Linked DNA regions of Homo sapiens. The protein of the gene in region 1 interacts with the protein of each later gene in a biochemical or structural test. Each region holds a gene or a part of one and is shown on either strand. Other genes may lie near its edges. The genes, in order: KHDRBS1, TSPOAP1, ARHGEF4, NPHP1, DOCK3, SPATA13 and DHX9.

The links.
Region 2: the proteins of KHDRBS1 (region 1) and TSPOAP1 interact in a test that uses a peptide from one of them, tested with the Homo sapiens proteins (one study listed by BioGRID).
Region 3: the proteins of KHDRBS1 (region 1) and ARHGEF4 interact in a test that uses a peptide from one of them, tested with the Homo sapiens proteins (one study listed by BioGRID).
Region 4: the proteins of KHDRBS1 (region 1) and NPHP1 interact in a test that uses a peptide from one of them, tested with the Homo sapiens proteins (one study listed by BioGRID).
Region 5: the proteins of KHDRBS1 (region 1) and DOCK3 interact in a test that uses a peptide from one of them, tested with the Homo sapiens proteins (one study listed by BioGRID).
Region 6: the proteins of KHDRBS1 (region 1) and SPATA13 interact in a test that uses a peptide from one of them, tested with the Homo sapiens proteins (one study listed by BioGRID).
Region 7: the proteins of KHDRBS1 (region 1) and DHX9 form a complex in vitro, tested with the Homo sapiens proteins (one study listed by BioGRID).

What each region holds. Positions count from the first base shown.
Region 1 is NC_000001.11:32,037,868-32,041,122, forward strand, and holds part of KHDRBS1 (KH domain-containing, RNA-binding, signal transduction-associated protein 1), read left to right. Parts: coding exon 1-169; exon of another isoform or gene 170-252; intron 253-684; coding exon 685-752; intron 753-1,647; coding exon 1,648-1,706; intron 1,707-3,255. UniProt on the Homo sapiens protein: Recruited and tyrosine phosphorylated by several receptor systems, for example the T-cell, leptin and insulin receptors. Once phosphorylated, functions as an adapter protein in signal transduction cascades by binding to SH2 and SH3 domain-containing proteins.
Region 2 is NC_000017.11:58,304,796-58,308,295, forward strand, and holds part of TSPOAP1 (peripheral-type benzodiazepine receptor-associated protein 1), read right to left. Parts: intron 3,147-3,500; coding exon 3,047-3,146; intron 2,968-3,046; coding exon 2,816-2,967; intron 2,174-2,815; coding exon 2,005-2,173; intron 1,619-2,004; coding exon 1,547-1,618; intron 1,071-1,546; coding exon 1,038-1,070; intron 849-1,037; coding exon 745-848; intron 664-744; coding exon 592-663; intron 377-591; coding exon 266-376; intron 1-265. UniProt on the Homo sapiens protein: Required for synaptic transmission regulation. It probably controls the recruitement of voltage-gated calcium channels to the presynaptic membrane, and modulates neurotransmitter release.
Region 3 is NC_000002.12:130,835,453-130,839,713, forward strand, and holds the start of ARHGEF4 (rho guanine nucleotide exchange factor 4), read left to right. Parts: upstream 1-1,461; 5' UTR 1,462-1,501; coding exon 1,502-1,540; exon of another isoform or gene 1,541-1,542; intron 1,543-4,261. UniProt on the Homo sapiens protein: Acts as a guanine nucleotide exchange factor (GEF) for RHOA, RAC1 and CDC42 GTPases. Binding of APC may activate RAC1 GEF activity. The APC-ARHGEF4 complex seems to be involved in cell migration as well as in E-cadherin-mediated cell-cell adhesion.
Region 4 is NC_000002.12:110,128,514-110,132,013, reverse strand, and holds part of NPHP1 (nephrocystin-1), read left to right. Parts: intron 1-222; coding exon 223-335; intron 336-2,754; coding exon 2,755-2,828; intron 2,829-3,500. UniProt on the Homo sapiens protein: Together with BCAR1 it may play a role in the control of epithelial cell polarity. Involved in the organization of apical junctions in kidney cells together with NPHP4 and RPGRIP1L/NPHP8. Does not seem to be strictly required for ciliogenesis.
Region 5 is NC_000003.12:50,677,927-50,681,426, reverse strand, and holds part of DOCK3 (dedicator of cytokinesis protein 3), read right to left. Parts: intron 1-3,500. UniProt on the Homo sapiens protein: Potential guanine nucleotide exchange factor (GEF). GEF proteins activate some small GTPases by exchanging bound GDP for free GTP.
Region 6 is NC_000013.11:24,163,720-24,167,219, forward strand, and holds part of SPATA13 (spermatogenesis-associated protein 13), read left to right. Parts: intron 1-3,500. UniProt on the Homo sapiens protein: Acts as a guanine nucleotide exchange factor (GEF) for RHOA, RAC1 and CDC42 GTPases. Regulates cell migration and adhesion assembly and disassembly through a RAC1, PI3K, RHOA and AKT1-dependent mechanism.
Region 7 is NC_000001.11:182,856,347-182,859,846, forward strand, and holds part of DHX9 (ATP-dependent RNA helicase A), read left to right. Parts: intron 1-185; coding exon 186-232; intron 233-1,757; coding exon 1,758-1,894; intron 1,895-2,204; coding exon 2,205-2,294; intron 2,295-2,386; coding exon 2,387-2,548; intron 2,549-2,693; coding exon 2,694-2,771; intron 2,772-3,500. UniProt on the Homo sapiens protein: Multifunctional ATP-dependent nucleic acid helicase that unwinds DNA and RNA in a 3' to 5' direction and that plays important roles in many processes, such as DNA replication, transcriptional activation, post-transcriptional RNA regulation, mRNA translation and RNA-mediated gene silencing.

The DNA.
Region 1 (3,255 bases):
GGTACGTGGTACACCAGTAAGGGGAGCCATCACCAGAGGTGCCACTGTGACTCGAGGCGTGCCACCCCCACCTACTGTGAGGGGTGCTCCAGCACCAAGAGCACGGACAGCGGGCATCCAGAGGATACCTTTGCCTCCACCTCCTGCACCAGAAACATATGAAGAATATGTAAGAAATTTGAACAATGTGCCATTTCCCAGTACCTAGAAGGCTGCTAAAGGAAGTTGAATGACAGGGCCTCGGTCCTTTATGTAGGTGTCATGGACTGCCTGTAAGATTTGCAATCTGCCCTCTTCTCTTGCAGTGAATGTTGAACTATTAGAAGATTTTTCCATTTTAGGCAGGGTTTTACTATACGCCTGTAGATTAAACAAGAAATAAAATGTACTTTAATGTAGTATTTTATAATGAATTTCTTACTACTAGTACTGATAATACTAAAGCTCGATTTTGTACTTTACTTCCTGCCCACACTTCTTCTGTGGCATATCATATTTGTTTGGGTTTTCTTTGTTTAGTAACCCTTTCTCTTTTGACTATTCTACAGTAGGCATTAACATTTTGGAGGGAAATGTCATGTCCTTTTAATTCAGAAGCCTACTTACTCCCATGGGATGTAATTACCTTTCCTACTCTCTATGATTTTGATCTTTTATTTCATTTTTTTGTTGTTGTTGTTCTAGGGATATGATGATACATACGCAGAACAAAGTTACGAAGGCTACGAAGGCTATTACAGCCAGAGTCAAGGGTGAGTCAGGCAGTATAAGCACTGTTTTTTGTCCTGAGGATGGATGGAGGGAGTTGGAGGAACAGAGAGATTTAGACAGTACAACCCTAAGGAGCAGAATGGTTCGCCTTTTGAGGGTATCTCCTCTGCAACCCCCACAGTCCTGACTGGTCTTGAACTCTTGAGCTCAAGCAGTCCTCCCACTTTAGCTCTCTCTAGTAGCTGGGGTTACAGGTGCGTGCCACCATGCAATGCTTTCCTCTGCGTTTGACATCTGTGAAGCACACACTTGGATTTGTAAATCTGGATAACTGTGAACCTTAAATTATAATTTAGAACCTGAGAGTAACAAATGAAAAATTTCCAAGCTGTGACTACATGGAAACAAGGAGAAATGCCTTTATGTTATTTTGATTTATTATTTTAAAATATCAAAACCACATTAAAGCTCCATAAAATTTTACAAGAAACTTGAATTCCATTACCATAACTTAGGTTCTTTTCTGCATTTCTCTTTAAGACCATTTCCTTGTGTGTCCATATATATAGCTTACCTGTGAATTGATTGAAAAAGAGTTCCAGAATTCTACAGCAGTGATAAAACAGTTCTTTTTTCCTTCTGGTGAGCCCTATGAATACATGTATATATATGCTATATTAAAAGGGTCAATTTAGGATTGTGCTTTTTCACTTTATATTCTGTGGTATCCATTTTTCTTTGCAATAGTTGTCAATTATTTTATAAGTACATAGTCTATACATATTTTGGAAATACTTTACGGTTTAGGGATGGGGCAGAATGAGTATTTTCCTGTATTAATACACTTAGTAAAATGACTGACTTATGGAAGTATTTGAGAGAAAGTTGAAACATAGTTACTCTGTAGCTTCCTAACACTCTGCCTTTGGCTTTCAGGGACTCAGAATATTATGACTATGGACATGGGGAGGTTCAAGATTCTTATGAAGCTTATGGTATGTCTTTATCTCTGTGGTGGGGCAGAATGTACAAGTAAGTGCCTGGGAGAATGCTGGTGACTAAAGTATTGAGAGTCAGACAAACACACCTACGGATAAACCTTTAGAAGGCCAAGATTTTGCTAGATGTGACAGTAAGAGTTCTGCTCTTGCTTAAATTTTGCGGTACATGGTAGAAAGAGGGACTGCTAAAGTGAGGTGGGGTATCGTTACTCTTGGAAGGGTAGTGTTTGTCTTAAACAAGGGCTCAAGACCAGCTTGGCCCTGGTTGGAGCAGCAGACTTATAAGCTAATGTTATTTTTTTTCTACTTTAGGCAGGGAAATAGCTAGACCTGGGTTGTATTTCTGGGCCTTTGCTGCCGATATCTAGGCCACTTTGGTAGATAACAAGAACTTAATCGTACACAACTGTACTCATCTACCCCATTTCATTAAAAAAAAAATTTAGATCTCATTGAAAAGAATGTCATTGTAAAGGAAATGTCAGCTGAAAGGGACCTAGATGGCAAGCAGCTAGCCAGACCAGGTTGCGGGGCAAGAATAGTGCCTATTAGGGCCGGGCGTGGTGGCTCATGCCTGTAATCCCAACACTTTGCGAGGCCGAGGCAGGCGGATCACCTGTGGTCAGGAGTTCGAGACCAGCCTGGCCAAGATGGTGAAACCCTGTCTCTACTAAAAATACAAAAAAATTAGCCAGGTGTGGTGGTGGGCGCCTTTAATCTCAGCTACTTGGGAGGCTGAGGCATGAGAATCACTTGAACCTGGGAGGCGGAGGTTGCAACGAGCTGAGACCGTGCCATTGCACTCCAGCCTGGGCAACAAAAGTCCGTCTCAAAAAAAAAAAATAGTGCCTATTAGAATCAGATTAGAGGCTGTAGGGGCTAGAGCCAATAATTCAGGACAGTACTGGCACCAAGCTCCTTGTTGGCTTGAAGACATCAACACAGTCCTTGATCCCAAGAGAGCTATGGAGGCTGCAACAGCAGCAGGACAAGGCTGCCTTCCCTGAGGTTTGGTTAAAAACACATCGCTCAAGTGTGTCCTCAAGAGCCAGTTATGGCCCTGTGTTAATAGGCCTCACTGGGAATACTATGTGGCAGTGGATGCAGCGAGAGCTACCTTTTCAGTATAAGGTATTTTCAGCATACCTGAGGGACTTCCAGAGAGTCCTTGGCAGGGGCTCAGCGATTGACAGTTCACGCTAAGATACTGGTTGACAGTCTCCCCTTATCCCTAGCTGAAAAAGAGGAGCCCCTTAGGGCCTCCCAGAGACAGACAAGCTGAGCCCAACTCAGCACAGTATGAAGTAGCCAATCAGCTGCTTGCCCAAGGAAACTGTTTTTACCAGTTTTAGCGAAATAGCACTGGACAGTTGCCAATCACTAACACTGTGTGTGATTGCACCCAAGTATTTCCCTCCATCAGTGAGGCAGTACAGTGGGGCCTCTGTATGTGTTTGACTAAATTGCATTTCTGTTTTGCTGGAGAAAAGACCAAACTGAAAGAGGCAGGCTTCTCTTTGTGCTCCTGATACGACGTTGCCAC
Region 2 (3,500 bases), on another chromosome or scaffold:
GTCAGCCACCAGGTGTTGGCAGCTGGCGAGATGGCCTGAGGGTCAGGGTCACAGCTATCATCCCTCTGCAGAGAGGGGCACATACTGGGGGGCAGCTGCTTGGTGGGGCTCCCCTCTGGTGGTCAATTAGCGGCTGCACGCTGGACACAGTGCTTACCTGCATGACCACCCCAGCTGCACCCCTGCCGCAACACTGCCCTGGCCCTACCACCCCACCAGTAGGGTAGACTGCCCTGCCAAGCTGGGAGCCCAGCTCCTCACTGACCTGACTCTCAGCCTGGGGTGTCCTGGGTTCCCTGTCCAGGCCGCCTGCCTCAGGCCCAGGGCCCTCCAGGAAGTTGGATGGAACCAGGCCCCTTTGTCCATTTAATTCCCCCTGGAGAGAAGAGGCCGGTGAGACTGAGATCAGGAAAGAGGCTCTGGCCCTGCCCCTCGACTCTGATGCCCCTGGGGAACAGCTGGGGCCAAAACCACTGTCCAGGGAGGTGACCCGTTCCATTCCTCCGGACTTCCTGAGGGTTCCTTGCCTATCCCCCTGTCCGAAGTCTGGGGGGCTGGGATATGGTACACCCTCCCCAACAATGTTCTCACATAGTAGAAACCGTCATCGTCCATGCCCCCAAACACAGTAATGACATCCCCTGCCCGGAAGGGCAGCTCTGCCTGTGGAAAACAAGAGGAGGGCATCAGGCCCAGGAAGGCTCTGCCACCGCCCTTTGCTGGGCTCTATCTGAGGGTCCTCACCTCCACGTCCATATTGGGGGAACTCTCCTGGGGGTTGTAGTCAAATGCAGCCACCATGGAGTGGGGAGCTTTCAGGTCAGCAGAGGGGACCAGCTTAGGGGGGCCTGCAGGGGGAGTAGGAGAAGACTCTGGACTCTCTGGAGAGCCCTACACCCCATCCTGTCTTCTGCCCCGGACCCCTGCTGACCCCCTGTCACCACCTCCCCACTAGCTGTAGCCAATGGGGCGAGGCCAGAGGGGCCACCCACCCTATCTCCTTCCCCAGCCTCCCGGGCCCAGGGATATTCCTTCACCTGGACAGGGCTGGGCAGGGCCTTCCGACTCAGCTGTGGAAAGAATGTGCCTGTGAGCCCCCTCCCACCCTGCCCACCCAGGCTGCAGGTGCTGCAGCGCAGGCCAGACACTCGCCCACACACAAGGAGGCAGGCAAGGAAGGCTGCCGAGGGCGCATCTCCCCAACCCTTTTGTGTGGCAGTGAACTAACACCCAGAAAGGGTAAATGGCACGCTCTGGGATTCACGGATTTTATAGTCAGGTGCCTGTGGGAACAGAGAGCTCCACAAACCATCCCTCATCCCCACCGGAACAAAGCCCCCCATGGGGGGAGGCAGGGGATGTGGGTGGTCTGCCGATTCCCTTTACCTGCTCAAAAACCCAGAGGTGCCTCCCCAGACAGCCAAGCAGCGCCACCCACCAGCACACACATCCTCCCAGCACCTGAGAGAAAACAGACAGCCAAGCAGCGCCACCCCACCGCACACACATCCTCCCAGCACCTGAGAGAGAATGGGGTCTTACCCACCTTTCTTGGAGCGGCGGGGCTTGGGAGGAGGCCCAGTTGTGTGGGCTGTGGAGTACACAAACGGACCATTCCCTGATCCAGAAAAGCAGAGAGAAAGCGAGGCAGGGGAGGTGGGAGAGACAGGACTGGGACTCTGGAGTTTCCTCTCAGGGCCGTGCTAGGTTACTGAGCTTGTTTCGTAAGGGCATTCATCTCCCATCCCTGACAAGAGCCCCACCCAACCTCCAGGACCCAAAATTCCTGGCTGCATGGCTGTATTCCCCTCTGCAACAGACGCCCACTCCACGCGGCCAGCCCACGTACAGTCTGACCACTACGCAGCAGGGTTCAAGGCAGGCTCCAAGGCTCTGCTAGAGTCTGGGTAAGTGGGAGCACCCCAGACACAACAATTGCTCAGGGTCAGGTGGAGTTGGAAGGGGGCTGGTGGGAGGTGGGTGAGGGACAGCAGCAGGTCATACCTGAGCCCTCAAGGAGAATATCTGGGGACAAATAACCCCGCTGGAGCAGTTGCTGTCTCCCAGCAGGGCTGTCCACAGCCACCTCAGCCACCATGTTGCAGGGAATGTAGCCTGTCCGGCCCCCACCTTCGCCCTGGTAGAAGCCATCGGCATCCTTGTCCCCAAACACCTGGAGGCAAAACCAGTGGTCTCAGCCAGTTCTGCTCACTCCCTATGCCCCTAGGCCCCGAACCCCAGCAACACCCCACTTGGAAATGCAGAAGAATGTTCTCCCTTTTGTATGCCATGAAATGGGAAAAGGGGGAAAACAGCAAAGAACAGGATCAGAGGGATAGGAGAAGACAGCCCTTTCTGTATTATCCCCATTCACTGTCTACATGGCCATGCCCTTTGCCCACCCCAGAATGGATCTCCTTAGTCTCAGAGCAATAGCAAAATGCCTTTAATCAATACTTGGAGGAGTAATAAAAATAGTAATGTCAGCAGCAGATAGTTAGATTGTGCTGCCTATGTCTCAGGCAGTTTAAGCACTTTATGTACATTGGATCATTTAATCCACAAAACACCCTGTGAGGTAGACACTAATATTATCCCCATTTTACCAAAAAGAAAACTGAGGCCCAGGGGGCCTAGGTAATCTACTCAAGGTTACACAGCTAGAAGCAGCAGAGTCAGGTCCAAACCCATGTCATCTGCTCTAGAAGCCATGTTCTCCACCATGATTCTGTGCTACCTCCAGTGGAGGAAAGGAGGGAGGAGGGAAGACCCAGCTGGTGTTTGGAATTCTGAGCCCTGATGGCGAATCAGTCACCTTCAGGATCTGACCCTCTCGGAAGGGAAGCTCTTCTTCTCCAGCATCAGGATTGGGCGACATTGACACGGGGTCATAGTCAAACAGAGCCACAAAGATCCTGACGGGTAGGTGCTGGTAAGCCAGTGTTTCTGAGGGGCTCCTCGCAGGGACTGTGGAGACAGTGGAGAGGGCGGTGACGCAGCGAGCTCTGGCCGAGCAGCTCTAGCTCCAGCCCCATCAGGTGCTCACCTAGCTCTGCAGTGCTTGGCCTGAGGACTCGGACACCTCTCTTCTGGGGGCCCCTCCGCCCAGAGCCGTCCTGCCCTCTGGCCTCTCCGGTCTCTGTTGCCTGCAAAAAGAGGGCAACAGATGGCAAAAGTAACACACCATCCCTCTGGTGGGCTCGTGCTCCCCCAGCTCTGCCCCATCAGCGTAAGCAGCACAGCAGCGCAGGAGCACAGCATTCCTCTCCCGGAGCCTCGGCCCAGCCTGCTGGAGACCTCAGACACCCCCACAGTGGGAGGGAGGGCAGGAGGGGAGGCCCCAGCCCCAGCCTGCGAGTAGATGAATGGAGTAGAGGGGACTGGAGTTGGCTGAGGAGCCCGCGAGAGGAGGGCCTCCCGTCAGCATCAGGGCAGGTAACCCTGGACATGGCATCACAGTCAGCGTCCTGAAGCCATTACTAGCTATGCAGAGGAAAGGG
Region 3 (4,261 bases), on another chromosome or scaffold:
GTGAGGTTTAATTTCTCACGTACTCTCCATGGCAACCCCACCAGGCGGTCATTCCTCTCGAATGTTAAAGATACGTGTTTAGAGCAGATGATCATGATTACACAACTGGTGTGCAGCACAGCCAGGTGCCCAGATCCGAATCCCACACCCTCCTCCCACCACCATGGGCCTCAGGGACATGCTTCTAGCACAGTCATGGACCCTGAGTGACATAAAGGCTGTGACAGGGGACGCAGGATCTTCAGATGGCCCCACAGTGCCTCCTCTGAGTATCTATCTCCCAAGCTTCTCGCCTGGCCTGGTTGCTGTGAGGGCCTGGGGAGAGGCAGAGACAGGTTGGGTGTACGGAAAATGCACACTCTGCCAGGCACCCCTGACACGCACTGCTGACCAGGCATAGCGTTCAGTGGGGCTAGGACTTGGACGAGGGTGCAGGCTTGAGCAGGGGTGCAAAAAGCCAGTCTGGGCAGATGCTCTCCCTCTGTGGGGCGCCGATCTCAGAAATGGTGGACAGAGCAGGGCTGCAGTATGGTGCACATGGGCCTTGGGGTCTTAGCTTTCGTGGGCCTCTTCCTGCATAAAATAAAATAGTTAAAATTAGAGTTTACAACTGCATTCATATAAAGATGAATATACTCCAGGCTAGATTCATTATTATTTTATTATACTCAGTTTTTTTCTTCTGATTTAAAATAGTGCGGTCCTAGGGCTGGTTAGAGTGTTTCCTGGCAGGCCCTGTCTCCTTAAACCCCTGCAAAGAAAGCAGCGAGGACTTCCCTTTGCCCCTTAGCAGAAAGCTGCGCTCCTTAATGGTTACGGGTGTGACCATTCACTTACATCCTATCTGCAGGACATACCTGGAAAGGTAAGTGGGAGGCAAGAGGGAGCTGGAGGCCAAGACTTCGGTCCCAGATATCCTAGTCCACATTTGTCCCCACCAGGTGTGTGAGTGCCGGCGCGCTGCACAGCCTCCCTGGGCCTCCGTTTCCTCAACTGGTAAACAAGAACGCTGGGCGGACTGAACTCTGAAAGTTCTGGGAGCTTGACAATCAGAACTCTCAGCAGAGAGGCCGCCCCTGCTCTCAGGAGGGCGGAGGCACCTGAGTCTCCAGTGCGGAGGACAGGCCGAAGCGCTGCGTTGGAGATGTGCAAATGCGCAAGAAGCGTGCTGCTTTCTCTCTGAGAAAACACTCCTAGGCTTCAAGGGGGCCCAAGAGCTCGACTGGGCGGGATGATCCCGGCGGCCCCTGGGCCGGGTCTGTGGACGGCTCTGCTGTGTGCCTGTGCGTGCCCAGTCCCGCGGGTGACCAAAGCCCAGGGGCGGGCAGGGCAGGAGCCTGGACCTCACGTGCCTCCAGTGGCCAGGTTTGCGGGGGCGGAGCGTCCGGGCGAGGGCGCGGGGGCGGACCCTAGGGCGGGGCGCGGGGTGGCGTCGGTGGAGCCGGCTCGGCGGCGCGGCTCGTAGTGCTGCGGCCGGGCTCCGGGCGTCCCGGCGGCCACCATGCTCAGCGTCGTGCACTTCCTCCGGAGCTTCTTCAAGGTGAGAGCCGGCGTCCGGGACTTGCGGTCGGGCTCCCGGCGCCCTGCGCGGGTGGGGAGGAGCACAGCCCGCGCTGGCTGCTGCGCCCCGGGCCGTCCCCTGGGCACCCGGTGGGTGGGGACACCCTCGTGGCTCCCCGCCGCTCCCAACTTTCCGACGTGCAGACCGGAGGCGGCGTCCTGCAAAGTGGGGCCGTCTCGAGCGCGGGGAAGGACGGGGCTCCGTTGGGGGCGGTAGGGACGGCGGCCCGGGGCGAGCCCCTGAGAGGGCAAGGGCGAGCGCCTGAGCCGGCCTCCCCGCACCTGGACCGTCCTGGGCGCGCGGGGCACTCGGAGCCGCTGCCTGGACCGGCCTGGGCGCGCAGGGCACTCGGAGCCTCTGCCGCTTGGCGCAGTACCAGCTGTTTTGGGAAGGAGGGCTGGTGCCGGCCCGGTGGGTACGGGAGAAGTGGTTGCTGTTGTTATTCCCCAGGCTGAGAGTACGCGAGGGCGCAGCAGCGGCAAGGGGCTGGAACTGGGGTCGGGGCTGTTGGGCTCCTGCTCGGGGTGCCCCCTCTCTGGCCCGATTTCCGGGCCCGCTCACCATCCGGGACCCACTCAGTTGGGACGCCTCCACCTCGCTGCCCCCACAGGAACCCCAAGATGGGCCGGGGGCTCCGGGGCACTGTCAGGGGTGGCCGGCCACAGGTTGCCAAGCCCGACCTCCCCAGGTGAGCCAGCGGGAGGGCGGTTGCGACGCTGGGTGGTGCTGAGCTCCGATGGGCTCCTACTCCGGGAGCAACTGCATGAAAGGAGAGGCGGGGAAGAGCCACCAGCTGTCAGCTGCAGGTCCAGGGGGAGGCAGACCTGTGTGGGGCTGTCGGGGCGGGAGGGCGGGAGGGCGCCCTACTTGGCTGTGCAGCCATCTTCTCCCGGAGTTGAAGACGGGAGGTTGAGGTCGGAGTTCTGTGGCCCTGAGAGCTCTAGTGAAAGGGGCAGGAAGCCAGGTGACCCAGGGCAGACCTGCAGGAGCCCTGCCCTCAGCCTATCCGCTGGCCTGGCATCAGCTCCCACCCCCAGCGATAACGAAGTGATCGCTGGCATCAAGAGTGGAGAGGGCCGGACAGCCGGGAAGGCAGCCTTTCAGGAACCTGTGCTGGTGAGTGTAGGAGATGGCTTGGAAGAGCTCAGACCCCCTTCAAATGCCGACTCTGTCATTGAGGAGGTGTACAATCTTGGGACAATCACATAACCACCTGGGTCTTTGTTTTGAAAAATGTGGGTGATGTTTCCATGCCCTCCACACCTTTCAGGGTTAGTGTGAAGGTCTTATTAGAAAATGTGAGTGTGGCCCGGCGCGGTGGCTCATGCCTGTAATCTCAGCACTTTGGGAGGCCGAGTGGGGGGGGCGGATCGCCTGAGGTCACGAGTTCGAGACCAGCCTGGCCAACATGTCAAAACCCCGTCTCTACTAAAAATACAAAAATCAGCCGGGCGCGGTAGTGGGCGCCTGTAATCCCAGCTACTTGGGAGTCTGAGGCAGGAGAATTGCTTGAACCCGGGAGACAGAGGTTGCAGTGAGCCAAGATAGCACCACTGCACTCCAGCATGGGTGATAGAGCGAGACTCCGTCTCAAAAAAAAGAAAAAGAAAAGAAGGAAGGAAGGAAGGAAAGGAAGGAAGGAAGGAGGGAGGGAAGGAAGGAAAGAAACGTGAGTGTGTTTATGAAGTGGTGAGCCCTGGACCTTGGTTCTGCTGCACCCACAGCAAGGGTGGCAAGGAGTTGCCCAGGTGAGGGGAAGATGGCCGGACAGAATCCAAGATGCCTGGGCAGAATCTGAGTCACCCAGCTGGCCCCAGAAGCTCCAGGAGCAGGTGGAGTGTGGCTGGAGGAGAGACCACTGGACATCTCTGGGCAGCCACCTTGCCTGCTGCTGCCTGGGAGGCTCCTGGGATTTGGCCTTTGTGAAAGTATTCCTGACACACACGGTCCTCCAGTTCCCCATCTATTCAGAGAGGCCTTTCCATACTTTCTGCCTCAGGTCCCTGTAGGTCCTGAGACACCTGAGGCCTCCCCATGCACACCACAGGAAGCATCACCTGTGCCCCTCAGAGGGTCTCCTTTCTGCTGTCCACATGGGAGGGGCTCTGACTGCCACAGCAGTCCACTTCTGGCTGTGTGAGTGTGTCTTGCCGAGCCACCGACAACGTAGTTCATACTTGTTCCTCTCAGACACTGGTCGTAAGGAATACCCCGTGAGGACACAGGTTGTGGGGTGGGCAGAGGAGCTACGTGCTTCAGTCACCGCCTGGTGCCTCCTGGTGTCCCCAGGGATTGGTCCTATGAGGTACCCCTGATGATGGGTGCTGGACTGGGCCAGAAAAGGCCACTTCATTCTGGGAACCTCAGATTGTCTGGGTCTCCCAGTCAGACTCTGTTAGCCAAGATGCAGCTAGTCTCCACCAAGCCCAGGAGGAGGACCCCAAGGCCCCAGGTGTGCCTTCTGGTGGCACTTGGTACAGACTCTGTACAGCACACAGATCTGCTTGGGCACGTTGGGCACCGTGGGATCCATGGGGCATGACAGTCGTGTGGCAGAGTCCCTCCCCGTGCAGGCAGACCAGTCGGAGAGCCTGCACCTGCCAGGGGCCCACACAGGTGCGCCGCCTTGGGGGTCACCCAGCAAATGAGTCAGAGGAGCAGCACACCCAAAAGGAAAATATGTTGTCTCAAAAATCCAGA
Region 4 (3,500 bases), on another chromosome or scaffold:
TGGCAACACAGGGTTGAGACTCGAAAGTGTAAACAAATATAAAAAGTTATCTGAAATTTAATGTGGCCTACTTGTAGTAGAAATTTTTCTTTAAATAGTTAAAAATGTGTTCCAGTAATGAAGCAAAATTTGGGACTGTTTATTAAAGTAATATACATCAAAACATTATAAGTTGGATTGTAGGGGATTGTCTAATGAATACATTTTTTTCTTCTTTAATAGTCTACTGCCAGAAACATTAATTGGAAATATGTGTTCTATTCACTTGTTGATATTTTATCGACAAATTCTTGGAGATGTGCTCCTGAAAGACAGGATGAGCTTGCAAAGTACTGGTAAGTGGGCTTTGCCACTTCCTTATGTGCAGTAATGCTTCATACTCTGAGTAAAGGTAACCTATACCATCTTGTATCTTCTGTTTCTGGTTGTGACTTTTGGAATAAAATATTTAGAACAGCATTGATGTTAATACATTACTTATGGGACATCTTCAGATCCAAAGCATTGAGCTTTGTGAACTCGACACATATTCAGTTCTTTCAAACATATGTATTTTCACATTTCAAATTCTAGAGTTTTGAGATCCCAAGAGTCAGATATAGTCATATTTTCCCTTAATGTCTCTGAGTAATCTGTTTTTTCCCATGTGTTTGGTATGCACATAATCATTTTGAAGAGAAACCAAAATCAACCAAAATAGCTGGTTCTTAGTGCATGAAGTATAAGTATCAAATGGATTAGTTTAAATTGGTGAATCCAGATATGGAGTATTTGGGTGTCCTATGTACTGTCTTTATTCTTGCAACTTTTTTGTACGTTTGAAATTTTTACCAAGTAAAATGTTAAAAAATAAGTTTAAAAATCAATGAGTCACCATACATGATTGAACCTGCAAAGATAAATGCATGTGTTATAGTAATTGCCTTCAAAAAGAAAAGCAGTTTAATTGTATTGGCTCTTCTTTCAGTTCAATAAATCAGTAACCAGATATGTACTGAGTACCTGGTATGTGCCAGATATTATGCTAGGCCCAGTGATGAATGAGACAGGCATAGGCGTCCCAGGCCTCAAACACATAATTTCATGAATAATCCTCTCCACCCTTTTGAAATAAGTGCTGTGAAGGAAAATACACAACGAGAACATGCACTGGGAAGACTTGATTAATGTGTAGGGTAAGGAAAGGCTTCTTTGAGTGAGTAATATTTAACAAAAGATGTGAGAGAGGAATTAGACCTATGAGGGAAGTGTGTGGGGAAGGATTCTTTCTGGGTAGAGGGGCCAGCATGTCTGAAGACCCAAGGAAAGAAGACATGCATGTGTTGGAGGGCTTGAAATTGAGGCAGGCCAGTATGGATGGAGCAGAGTGAGTGAGAGGCTTAGCACTTGTGGACAAATAACATTCATAGGCAGGAGTCCTCTCCCAGGGACTTATCACCTGGATAGATAGGTAGAAGTGGAACTCAAAGGCAGAGAAGCGCAGAAAGTTCTCAAGGAATCATTATAACTCTAAGGGGGAGGACGGGTAAGCCTTTTAATCACCATTGCCTTTGAATTCATTTTCATGACTCTTGAGAAACTTCATGAATGATGTGACCTCTTAAAGAGGATAAGGCTTGTTAGTTTTCCCAATAGGTAAGAAGTTTACTCAGAATTGTTGACTTCATTTGAATTTAATCATTAGAATAAAATATCCTAATAATATCTAAAGAATGAATTTTTCTCTACTGAGGACACCAGATTATAGAATACCTTGCCCTTGCCATTTCAAAAGTGTCTGCTATGGTTTCAGTGTGTCCCATCTAAAATTCATGTTACCAATGTAATGGTATTGAAAAGTGGGGCCTTTGAGTGGCGATTAGGCCATGAGGGCTGTTGCCTTATGAATGGGATTAGAGACCCTTACAGAAGGGCTTGACAAGGGAATTCGTCTCACCCTTTTGCCTTCAGCCACGTGATGGCACAGTGTTCCTCCCCTCTGGAGGATGTTGTAAGAAGGCCCTTACCAGACACCAAATGCCATTACCTTGATCTTGGATTTCCCAGCCTCCAGAACTTGGAGAAATAATTTTATTTTGTTTATGTTACCCAGTCTCAGGTATTCCACTACAGCAGCGCAAACAGACTAAGACATGTCTTTCCTGATGTGCTTCTTTGCACAGATTTTTCATGTGCTGTTATCTATTGTGAAATGTCAATATTCTCCCTCACTGTGTTTGGTCATATGGCCAGAATCCTCAATTCCTAATTCTTCCAGTTTCACCTACCACTGTCTGCTGGCTCCAGACACAAGTTTGGGTCCTTCCCTGAGCGCTGGTGGCCTGGAATCAGACCTGAGCAGCAGGTCCTCTGTCTCCTTTCCCCCCAATGCTTCCTAGTTTCTGCTCAGTCTCCCAAGAGCAGGGCTACCTCTAAGGGGAAGATTCCTTTTACCATGCCACAGCCATAAGGAAGAAAGAGAAGTTGAAGAAAAACACAGAACAAAATTTTCTAGTCTTATTCTGTTCAGAGCCTCCTTGCCCTTACTCTAAAAGCTCCATTAATTTGGTACAGGAACTCACCAGGATATGGGTATAGGGGCAAATGAAGGTTGAAGGGACAGCTTTGAGCTCTCCTAGAAGTCAAAGTGTGTAGAATGTGTTATCAACAAATCATTTGGCACAATAATTTTCATCTGAATATTTTTGTGTCTATTGCAATAAAATCCATTGAGTGAAGTTTGCATAAAATTCTTTCTGTTGTTTTGCATTTCAGATTTAATTAGCCATCCCATGCTGGCCACCTTCCCCATGCTCTTGGAGCAGCCTGATGTGATGGATGCTCTCAGGGTGGGTAGCATGCATTGCAATGGAAACCTGCTGGCTTATGGAAGCAGTTATACACTCTGTGTTAATGAGTTCTGTCTAGGCCTTTTTTTTTGTTACTAGGATGATGTCTCCCAATCCCTATCCATTGTCTAGGTAACTCAGTCCTCATCTTTCCCATCTTAGCATAAATTCCCAAGGGCTGCCTTCCCTGACCCAGGGAGCAGGTGGAGTGCCTGCTATGTACACTATTGCAATCTTTGCCCATTTTTTCCTTGACTTAGGATGGCCACTGATTGTGTCCTAAGAGCAAAAATCCAAAATGGTCTGTAAGATAAATCAATTGAATTTGCAGGGGAGAATCAGGGCATGCACATCATCTTTAATTCCATGTGTGCTGTTTGCTGTCTGAAATAACTGTTGAGTGTTATGTTAAATCGTATGAAATCTCCAATTTTCAGCCATTTTTGGCCTAAGTGGCAGTTTCATATGGTTTAGCCTAATACATCAGGGTCAATAAGTAGAAGAGCTGCATGCATGCAAGGCAGATACACAGGTAACATCACAAGTGCCATGGGGGAGGTATAACCCAGGACCTTGAAGATTTAAAGAAGGCAGCAAAGAAGGATCCAAATTCTGTTTCACTAGAGAGGTCCTGCATGAGAGAGCCTAATAAAGGCCAGGGCCAAGAGGATT
Region 5 (3,500 bases), on another chromosome or scaffold:
TAATGCTTACATGTTGGGAATAATTTCAGATCATTCTTAAAGAATAAAGACACAAAAATTTTAAAAAATTCAAAATACAAACTATTAAAAATTAAAATTTAGCACCAATGTAAAAATATGCTATGAAGGTTAAAGTACTTTCAACCTCAATGACCATTCTTTTGAGACTGCCCTGCTTCAGAATGCATCTAATACTACACAGAAATAGGTGCCATGTTTACAATTTAGCTTAATGTTTCTAAATCATATTCTAATACTGCATGATAAAACGAACTAGAAATCTGAAGTCTACTGAATAGACTTAAGATGATTAAAAACTTAAACATAAGACCCAAAACTATAAACCTACTAAAAGAAAACATAGGGAAAATGCTTCAGGACATTGGTCTAGGCAAAGATTTTATGACTAAGACCTCAAAAGCACAGGCCACAAAAACAAAAATAGACAAATGGGGCTACATTAAACTAAAAGCTTCTGCACAGCAAAGGAAAAAGAGTAAAGAGACAATCTACAGAATGGGAGAAAATATTTGCAAACTATTTATCTGATAAGGGACTAATATACAGAATATACAAGGAACTCAGCAGCAAAACCAAATAATCCCATTAAAAAGTAGGCAACAGGCTGGGCACAGTGGCTCATACCTGTAAACCCGCCACTCCCCAGGAGGGAGGGTCTCTTGAGGCCAGGAGCTCAAGACCAGCCTGAGTAAAATAGCAAGACCCAGTCTCTATAAAAAAAAAAAATTAAAAATTCGCTGGGCATGGTGGCATGGACCTGTTGTCCTAGCTACTGGAGAGGATGGCTTGAGCCCAGGAGTTCAAGGTTACCATGAGCTACGATCATGCCATAGCACACAAGCCTGGGTGACATAGCAAGACCTCGTCTTAAAAAAAAAAAAAAAAAAAAAAAAGCAGGGCACGGTGGCTCATGCCTGTAATCCCAGCACTTTGAGAGGTCAAGACGGGCAGATCACTTGAGGTCAGGAGCTCGAGACCGGCCTGGCCAATATGGTGAAACCCCGTCTCTACTAAAAATAGAAAAGAATTAGCCAGGTGTGGCGGCGCACACCTGTAATCCCAGCTACTCAGAAGGCTGAGACAGAAGAATCGCTTGAACCCAGGAAGCGAAGGTTGCAGTGAGCCGAGATCACCCCATTGCACTCCAACCTGGGCATCACGGCAAGACTCTGTCTAAAAAAAAAAAAAAAGAAAGAAAAAGAAAAAAATAGTCCAATACAGAAATAAAATTCCTTAAATATAACTATCCAGTTTAAATTGAAAACTGCAGAGTATGTCTTATCTTTCAAGCCACAGTCATATACTACTGACAATTCCTTTCAGAGGACACGGTGTAATAATACAATCTGTGGCTTAGAATCTCAAAGTCCTAGGTTCAAATCTCAACTCAGCACTTACTATCTAAAGTATCTTAGATCAGTTACTTAATTTCTCTCAGCTAAAGCTTCTTTCTCATCTGTTTAAAAAAGAGGGGAGAGGTGGTGATATAGTGTAAAGCTCAAGTAGAATCATGAATAAGGAAGTTCCCCATAAACACTAAACAAGACATCAAGCACATCCTCACTTTTCAGAACAAAATAAAGTCATAGGTCTATGAAATCTTTCCTACCCCTAGTGGATGATGTCTTTACCTCTAAAGGGGTATTGGGGCCCTTCCAGAGGTTGCAAAGGTTGGGCTTCCCTCACTGAATAAATAACTAAAGAGCACACTGTCTTCAGACTATTTTGGTGAGTTCTAGTCCATTTACCAACAGATTTACTCAAATTTTGTGAACACTAATTCTTCCAGATCTGGTTTCAAGGATCTATTTCCTCCCCACCTTCAGATTCTTTTCCTGCACCACAGGATCTTTACAAGTTTCTTTTAAGGACTCAGGATTTGTTTGTTTGTTTGTTTGTTTGTTTTTAAGTGCTTTTCTTCCCTATCTGGAGAAACCTAACCAAAAGGAAGTTAGGTAAAAATAATGCATAAAATACGCATTACTTTTTAAATAGGAAAAAATAAATATAACATTACAAAACTAAAATGTAAGGTCTTCAGATTGGTAATGAGAAAAATTTTTCATGTTCTACTAAGAGGGATTAATAAAAAATAAGCAATAAATGCCCTAAATTACTCAAAAATTTGCCTTAGCTGGGCACAGTGGCTCACAGGTATAATCCCAGTGACTTGGGAGGCTGAGGTGGGAGGATAGCTTGAAGCCAGCAGTTTGAGACAAGCCTGGGCAACATAGCAAGACCATGTCACTAAAAAAAATTTTTTTTAATTAAAATTTAAAAATTAGCCAGGCAAGGCTGGGCGCAGTGGTTCATGCCTGTAATCCCAGCACTTCGGGAGGCCGAGGCGAGCGGATCACAAGGTCAGGAGATTGAGGCCCTCCTGGCTAACATGGTGAAACCTCATCTCTACTAAAAATACAAAAACAAAATTAGCCGGGCATGGTGGCGGGCACCTGTAGTCCCAGCTACTCGGGAGGCTGAGGCAGGAGAATGGCATGAACCTGGGAGGCAGAGCTTGCAGTGAGCCGAGATCACGCCACTGCACTCCAGCCTGGACGACAGAGCAAGACTCCGTCTCAAAAAAAGAAAAAAAAAAATTAGGCAGGCAAGGTAGTAAACACCTGTAGTCCCAGCTACTTGGGAGACTGCTGCAGGGGGATCGCTTGAGCCCAGGAGTTCAAGGCTGCAGTAAGCTATGATCATGCCGCTGCACTCCAGCCTGGATGACAAGAGCAGGACCCCACCTCTCAAAAAAAAAAAATTGCCTAATGACAGCAGCAGAATAAACAAGATGACCTTCTGAAGCAGCTTCCACTTCTAAGACGTCAAACTAATACCTATGTACTCAAACCTTTACCACTTTTCTATTCAAGGAGTGTAATTACAAACATTTTTGTTTTAAAAACTGTTGGTGCTTGCTGCTCCTGCTGTTGCTCCTGTTAGAGGGTGAGAAAAGCATTTTCTTGGTTTTTGTATTCTATATTTGGTACTCTGGGTACAGTCAGTATAGGGAAAGACAGGTGTTTCACAAAAATAGCTGGATTTTTCTCACCTAATACACTTTAGAGCAGGAAGCTTCTTGGAAAGGTAGAATAAAGAATGGAAGGATGCAGGACTTTCCAAGCATTCATGGCAACAGAAAGGAAAGCAGAGATTCTCTAAGAGGGAAAGGGACATAAGAAGTCAAAACACGGGCGAACGGGTACAGTAAAGAACAGTACCTTACAGTACCACAAAAAGAAAGCAAGACAGTCAAGTATTTCACAAAATACTGCCCACTGCCAAGAAGAAAATTAAGAAAAATATACAATCGTTGAAGGACAAAAAAAAAAAAATTAACAACCTTTGGGATCCAGTTTCTTTATCTGTGTAATAATGATAACATTAAGACTACTCTGGGAATCGACATGGGGTTACCTAAGTGAGAGTCCCAGGCACACTGACAGGCCTATCACTGACCCTCAGAAAGGATAATGTCC
Region 6 (3,500 bases), on another chromosome or scaffold:
AAATGGCATATTCAAGGGAAAGCAGCAGGACAAAGTTGGCTCTAAGGCTTCTCTGGTTCAGGGCTCAATGCCTGGCCCTATAGCTTGGTAGGTTGACCTCTCTGTTTGCTGCTGGAAGCAACAAAGTTTCTTTCCCCTTCCTTTCCCTTGAGCTAAGAGGCATTGGAAGGTTTCACTTAGAAGGGGAACTCATCAGTGCTTTCCTTTCTTTTTTGTCTGAAAACTAAACATTTAAGAAATGTTTGCCTATGAGACATGTAATAGCATAAATGGGATCATAACATCACAGTGGTATAAATTCAAATGTTTTAGAAAGAACTATCATTGTTATTTCTAAAACACCAGGAATGAACACCAAATGTACATGGTTTTCTTGAGGGAAACTATATAATACATGGCAATTTGAAAATCAGTACCTGGAATGTTTAATTGTATTTTACATTTGTGGAGAGAAATGCATTGGTACAAAGTGCTTACCTGATTTTCCTCATCTTTGCATCACAAATGAAAGAGCAGTAAAGGGGGAGCATAGAGTAGGTTGCTGTTTTTCTGTTGGCCTCTGCTGTACCCACATCCTTCTCTGGACTCCCACTGAGCCCCCTTGCTCCTGCCTCTGCTCCCTCCATGTTTAATGCCTCTTTTGGCTCCCCAGGGAACCTGCAGGGTATTGTTGAATTGTGATGCTCACCTCCTCCATACCAGCCTGTCTTGACAGAATGAAACCCTGATGCCCTGAGGCAGGCATCCTATGTGATGGCTTCATCACTCCCTCCTAGGATGAGATGGGTGATCAGGTACCATCCTGGGGAGAAGGGAGGAAGCATTTGCGTGAGGTATCCTCTGTGTTCTGTGGTTTAGGTGAGGATGGTTATAACTGAGGAGCAAGTCAAGTTTCATTGCTCCCTAAATGAGATGGAGGTTCAGGGAAGCTGTCGTGGCCAGAGCCCCATAGTAAGTGGCAAGACTGAGACTGGACCCCGGGCTGCCTGGCTTAGGAGATCCACCTGCATCCCTCGGTGTGTCTGTCTTCCCTCTAACCTGTAACTCCCTGAGGCAGAAACGGCACCACAGAACCTTTCACAACATCGATAGCTCCTGTGTGCTGAGCTGAAGGTGAAGCTGGAGAGGAGAGACCAGGGGACCAGGGGACAAGAGCCTGAGGGCTCAGAGGAGTTCCCAGTCCAGCCGTCGCGCTAACTTCGGGGTTGTGGACGATGCCCTCTGTGCCTGCAAGAACCCTGGGGAGCTGTGGCAACACCGCAGAATGCAAGGAGAATGGCGTCTGTGTTTCCTGTATATGTATGTGGTTGTGGCCATGTGCTGTGGTCAGGATGTCAGCTTCGGTGGACACAGGTAATGGCTGTCCTGTGGTCATCATGTTCCAGCATCTCGGAAATGGGGCTGTTGCTTCAGTGAACCAGGACCTTAAAGGACCTGACTTCTTGGTGAGCAATCACTTCCACCCATTTCCCTGAAGCGGGACTGCCCTAGTCTTTGTGGAATCACGAGAGCGCAGACATTGTCACTTGAGGGATTCTGTGCCTGCCTCAGACTGTCTCCCACCCCAGCATGCCAGGTCTGCCCTGAAGACCCACCAGCATCCATCTGCACCCTCCAAGAGGACTCTACCTGTCCAATCCAGGAGAGGGGAAGGGCCAGCCTTTCCCCTCCACCCCCATTCATACCAGAGCAGGCTTTGTTTCTTAACACTGGCAAGCTCTCCTTAGAGAGAAGTAGAGCACAGGTCCGAAATGGCCAGACTGGAGAGTTTCAATGGAGGGAGGCAAGCTGCCTTCCTGGGTTCCTGGGCCACCCAGTCTCCTGCCCTCTTCTCCTCTCTCAGCCCTTCCCGGTTGCACCCCCCACCCACCCCAACTCCAACTTTAGCAGCAGGAAAGGGGACATCTTTACTCACTGTCTGGGACAGATGCACGGGGAGGGCAGGCTTTTATTGTCTTATTCCAATGGGGGCAGGAGGCTGGCAATGAGATGTGTTGTGGTATTGCTGATCAGAACGTTGATCACATCTTTTGCAGAAAATGTTGCTCTGTGTGATAGGAACAGTCCATTGTACTTGAGTGTTAATGCGACAATTCAGTCTCATTACACAGGATTCTTAGGTCAGGCCCTAGCTCTTAGTCACCATGGGTGATGTAGAGATTGGTAAATGTGCCCTGAGTCCTAAACAACTTGCACATGTACTTTTAAACACATCCGGGTTGTGTGTTGTGACTCTATAGCTAAAAGAAAAATAGCCTCTGGTTCAGAAATGTGCTCCACTTCCACCCTTCCTGGGGGGTGGAGTGCTCTTCTGTAACGTATAAAAGTCTTTCTCATTCATCAGGAATGGCCTATTTAGGGATTTATGTGGATTTGCAGATTCTGCTATCACAAGTGTAATACCGATGATACTTCATGCTGGTTTGTAAGCATAAATGTATATGTAATACTTACTGTGTATCTTTTGTGTACTAGATGCTGAAGATGGAGAGATTGATCAGAGACAGTCCCATTTTCATGAAGAGACTCATATTCTTGTCTAGAGGGAGAGGCCCATATGTAAAAGCAAAGCAGTGAAAAGTAGTGAGTGTGGCAGTCAGTTAGGGGAGAAGATGAGAGTTCAAAGATCCAGGAAGGCTTCCTGGAGGAGGAGCTGAGTCCAGTGTGGGCTGAATCCTAACAGAGGAGTGAGCAATTAGGGAAGGAGCTGACAAAGGAAAACCTTCTAGCCCTGGGGGACGGCGTAAACAGAGGTGAGGAGATGGGCTCCAGCTTGGTGACTTGAGGGACCCTTGAACATCTGTATCACTATAGCCCCAAGCACATCAGTCATGACTGAGTCTGTGTGCCTAGGGCATGGTTCTAGCATCAGCAACACTTGGGGGTTTGTTAGGAAAGTAAATTCTAGGGCTCCCACCAGACCTATAAATTAGTTCTGTGAGTGGGGCCCAGCAATCTGTTTTTTAACATGCCTTCTACATGTTTTTCAACCACAGAAATATTTGAAAGCCACTGTTTTAGAGCATATGCTTCCTGGAGGCTCTGAACAGCTACTCTCCATGTCTGCCTCATAGTATTTGCAGAGAATGGTAATCCTCTTTTATGAGGGCATTAATCTCCTTCACGAGAGGGGAGCCCTCATGATTTAATCAGTTCCAAAAGGACCCACTTCTTCACATCATCACCTTGGGGTTTAAATTTCAACATCAAAATTTTGGAGGGACACATACATTCAGACCGTAGCAGTTCCCATCTCTCAGAGTTTCAAAACCTTTGCTGCATGTTTGAATTACCAGGGTGCCTTTAAATACATTGGTGCCTACTCTTACCTTCAAATGTTATGATTGGTTTGGGGTATGACCTATGTGTTGAAATTTTTGAAAGCTTCCCAAGCGTAGTCAAGTTTGGGAACCACTGTCATAGGTGAGGATTCCATGAATTGATCCTTGTAAAATGCCAGAGTGTCCTGGCCATCACGCAGGAAGTGCTTTGTGTGTGTG
Region 7 (3,500 bases), about 150 Mb from region 1:
CATGTTGTATATTATTTGAAGTTTATATACTTCATTTGTTCTAGGGTTGGGCAGAAATAAATGTTGGTAATTTTTTTTTTCTGTGATTTGCCTAAGCAGTTGGAAAGCCTGCCTGACTTGGGAGACCTGGATTTGCTGGTTTCTAACAGTGAAATTTCTAACCTTGCTTGTATATGTTGTTACAGGAGCTTTATTGCAGAAATGACCATTTATATCAAGCAGCTGGGCAGAAGTAAGTGTTACTGTTTCCCCAATATTCCAAGTCTCTGTATAGAGAAGGAATCTTCACATTTTAAGTCTTGAGTCACGTATACAGAAGCTGTATTATTTGAAAGAGCACATAATGTAAGATAGCATCTAGGGTATATTTTAGAATATTAGTAATTATATAAATTAGAGGCAAAGTCTCCCAGTTTGCATGTGAAAACAGACCATGTTAGTGTAATCTTTCAAAGGTAAGACACAGTGGGATGATTAGGAGTCTGCCAGTGTCAATTAATTTTAAACCTTTTTTGTTTTTTGAGACGGAGTCTTGCTCTGTCGCCCAGGCTGGAGTGCAGTGGTGTGATCTCGGCTCACTGCAAGCTCCGCCTCCCAGGTTCACGCCATTCTCCTGCCTCAGCCTCCCCAGTAGCTGGGACTACAGGTGCTGCCACCAAGCCCGGCTGATTATTTTTTGTTTTTAGTGGAGACGGGGTTTCACCATGTTAGCAGATGGTCTCTATCTCCTGACCTAGTGATCTGCCTGGCTCAGCCTCCCAAAGTGCTGGGATTACAGGCGTGAGCCACTGTGCCTGGTCTTAAACATTTTTTCATTTTTATATATACAATGAGTTATTTTGAGTGGATGGATAATACTAAGGGAGAGAGGATAAAGGCAGGCTAACTTCTGTCAGCTCACTTACCTTATCGAGGTTAATTTGGCTAGTTAGGCAGAAAGATACCTTTGTACCCCTTTGCTTTATATTCATCTCTCCTAAGGATGAATGATACAGGAGGAGAGGAAACTTTCTGTTAATATTTTCTATAAGGATATGAGTAACTTAGCTTTAGTTTAATGCTAAGGTCAGCAAACTATAGCCCTCTGGCCAGATCCAGCGTACTGCCTGTTTTTATAAGAACTGTTTTATTGTAACATAGCTACACTCACATTTTAGACTTTACAGGTCACACATTGTTATTCTCATTTTATTTTTACAACTCTTGAAAAACGTAAAGCCATTCCCAGTCCTATGGTTTATCAAACTCTGTTGTCAGTGACTGCTTTCACACATTAAAGGCAGAGTTGAGTAGTTGTGACAAGATACTATATGGCCTGCAAAGCCTAAAATATTTATTAATTGACCGTTTATAGAAAAAGTTTCCCAAATCCTGGTCTAGGTAACCACTCTGGACCCAATTACTTTTACTGGTTTATTTTTTACTCTTTGTCTTTTCAAACTATGTTTTCTTCCCCATTTTAATGTCTGATATTAACAGTGACAACTTTGTTGAAATAGGTTATTTGCTTTCATAATATTGATTTGTATGAGTCCTAGTATCAGCCAGTAATCAAAACTGTTGGTTATTTAGTTGATAAGCTGTTTGGCAATTTCTTTTGTTTAGCAGATATTAATAGAATAAAAAGGAACTAGAAGCCATGGCATACCCTGTATTTTAGGGCTTCTTGTGTACGTAAGCCCATAGTTTCTTGTGATAAGATGTTTCTTTACTCAGATGATTTCTTTCTGTCTGATAATCCTGACCTTACATTATAGGGATTTTTGCACGAGAACATGGATCAAATAAGAAATTGGCAGCACAGTCCTGTGCCCTGTCACTTGTCAGACAACTGTACCATCTTGGAGTGGTTGAAGCTTACTCCGGACTTACAAAGAAGAAGGAAGGAGAGACAGTGAGTCTTTAGATTTAATAGACTTGTGAGATAGTGTGAGATTCAATTTAGCTCTTGTTTAGTGTTTGGCTGAAGAAGTTTAATTTTAAGAATCTTACCTCAGGAAATGAAAATGGCCCTGCTAATCATCTCTGTGTCTGGCATGATGTTCATAATAGGCAGTGAGTAAATAATCATTGAAGTAATTCTCTCACAAAAGGGAACTGACTATTGGTTTAGGAATATTGTAGACCTAGTGTTGACTGTATAGTCTTAGCCCCATTATAGTAGATTTGAGTAGTGTTGTTAATGTGTGATCCTTTTTCCATAGGTGGAGCCTTACAAAGTAAACCTCTCTCAAGATTTAGAGCATCAGCTGCAAAACATCATTCAAGAGCTAAATCTTGAGATTTTGCCCCCGGTAAGCATAAAGCTGTTTAGTTCACATTTACGTAGAACTCTCCGTAGACAAGCAAATCATATTTTTTGTTTGTTTTTCTTATTTTTTAATAGCCTGAAGATCCTTCTGTGCCAGTTGCACTCAACATTGGCAAATTGGCTCAGTTCGAACCATCTCAGCGACAAAACCAAGTGGGTGTGGTTCCTTGGTCACCTCCACAATCCAACTGGAATCCTTGGACTAGTAGCAACATTGATGAGGGGCCTCTGGCTTTTGTGAGTGCAATATTGTTTTTGAGATCAGAGTCTTGTGTTTTACTCTTGAGACTATATTTGATTAGTATGTCTAGGTAAAAAATGGATTTATTTTGAAGCTGAATTATGTGCTTTTGTTTGACTATGTTGGCTTTTTGTTTTACAGGCTACTCCAGAGCAAATAAGCATGGACCTCAAGAATGAATTGATGTACCAGTTGGAACAGGATCATGATTTGCAAGCAGTAAGTCTGAATTATTTAGACAAGTAGTGCTCAGAGCTTCAGAATGTTCTAGGTATGGGTAAAAAGTCAATGAGCAGTACATTTTGCCCTTTTAAGGAGGGCATATCAAAAGATATGTACCAAACTGCTAATCCTAGTTACCCCTGAAGTTAGTTGCTATGAGTTGAGGGCCTGTGAGAGAATTTCACTTCTTAATGTAATTTAATAAAAGTGGAGAGATTTAAGGCAGTGACTCCTTTTGTTGTTGGTTTTTTTGTTTGTTTTAGTGTTTTCCAAATAAAAAATTAAAATGTTAAAAAGAATGCGTGTGCGACTTTCAGGGACAATGAGAATTTAGTTTTTGGACAACATCAAAAGATACATTCTTCAGAAGTGTAGTGAAAAGAAGTAGTTCTATTAGAGATATAAATATACACATTCTTTTTTGAAAAAAACATTTTCATCACTAAGCCAATGGAAATGAGTAAGTTTTTATAGAGATGGAAGTTTGGTTTTTTTGTTTGTTTTTTTCTTGAGACAAAGTCTCGCTTAGTTGCCCAGGCTGGAGTACAGTGGCTCAGTCTCGGCTCACTGCACCCTCCGCCTCCTTGGTTCAAGCAATTCTCCTGCCTCAGCGTCCCAAGTAGGTGGGATTACAGGCACACCCCACCACACCTGGCTAATTTTTGTATTTTTAGTAGAGATGGGGTTTCACCATGTTGGCTAGGCTGGTCTCGAACTCCTCACCTC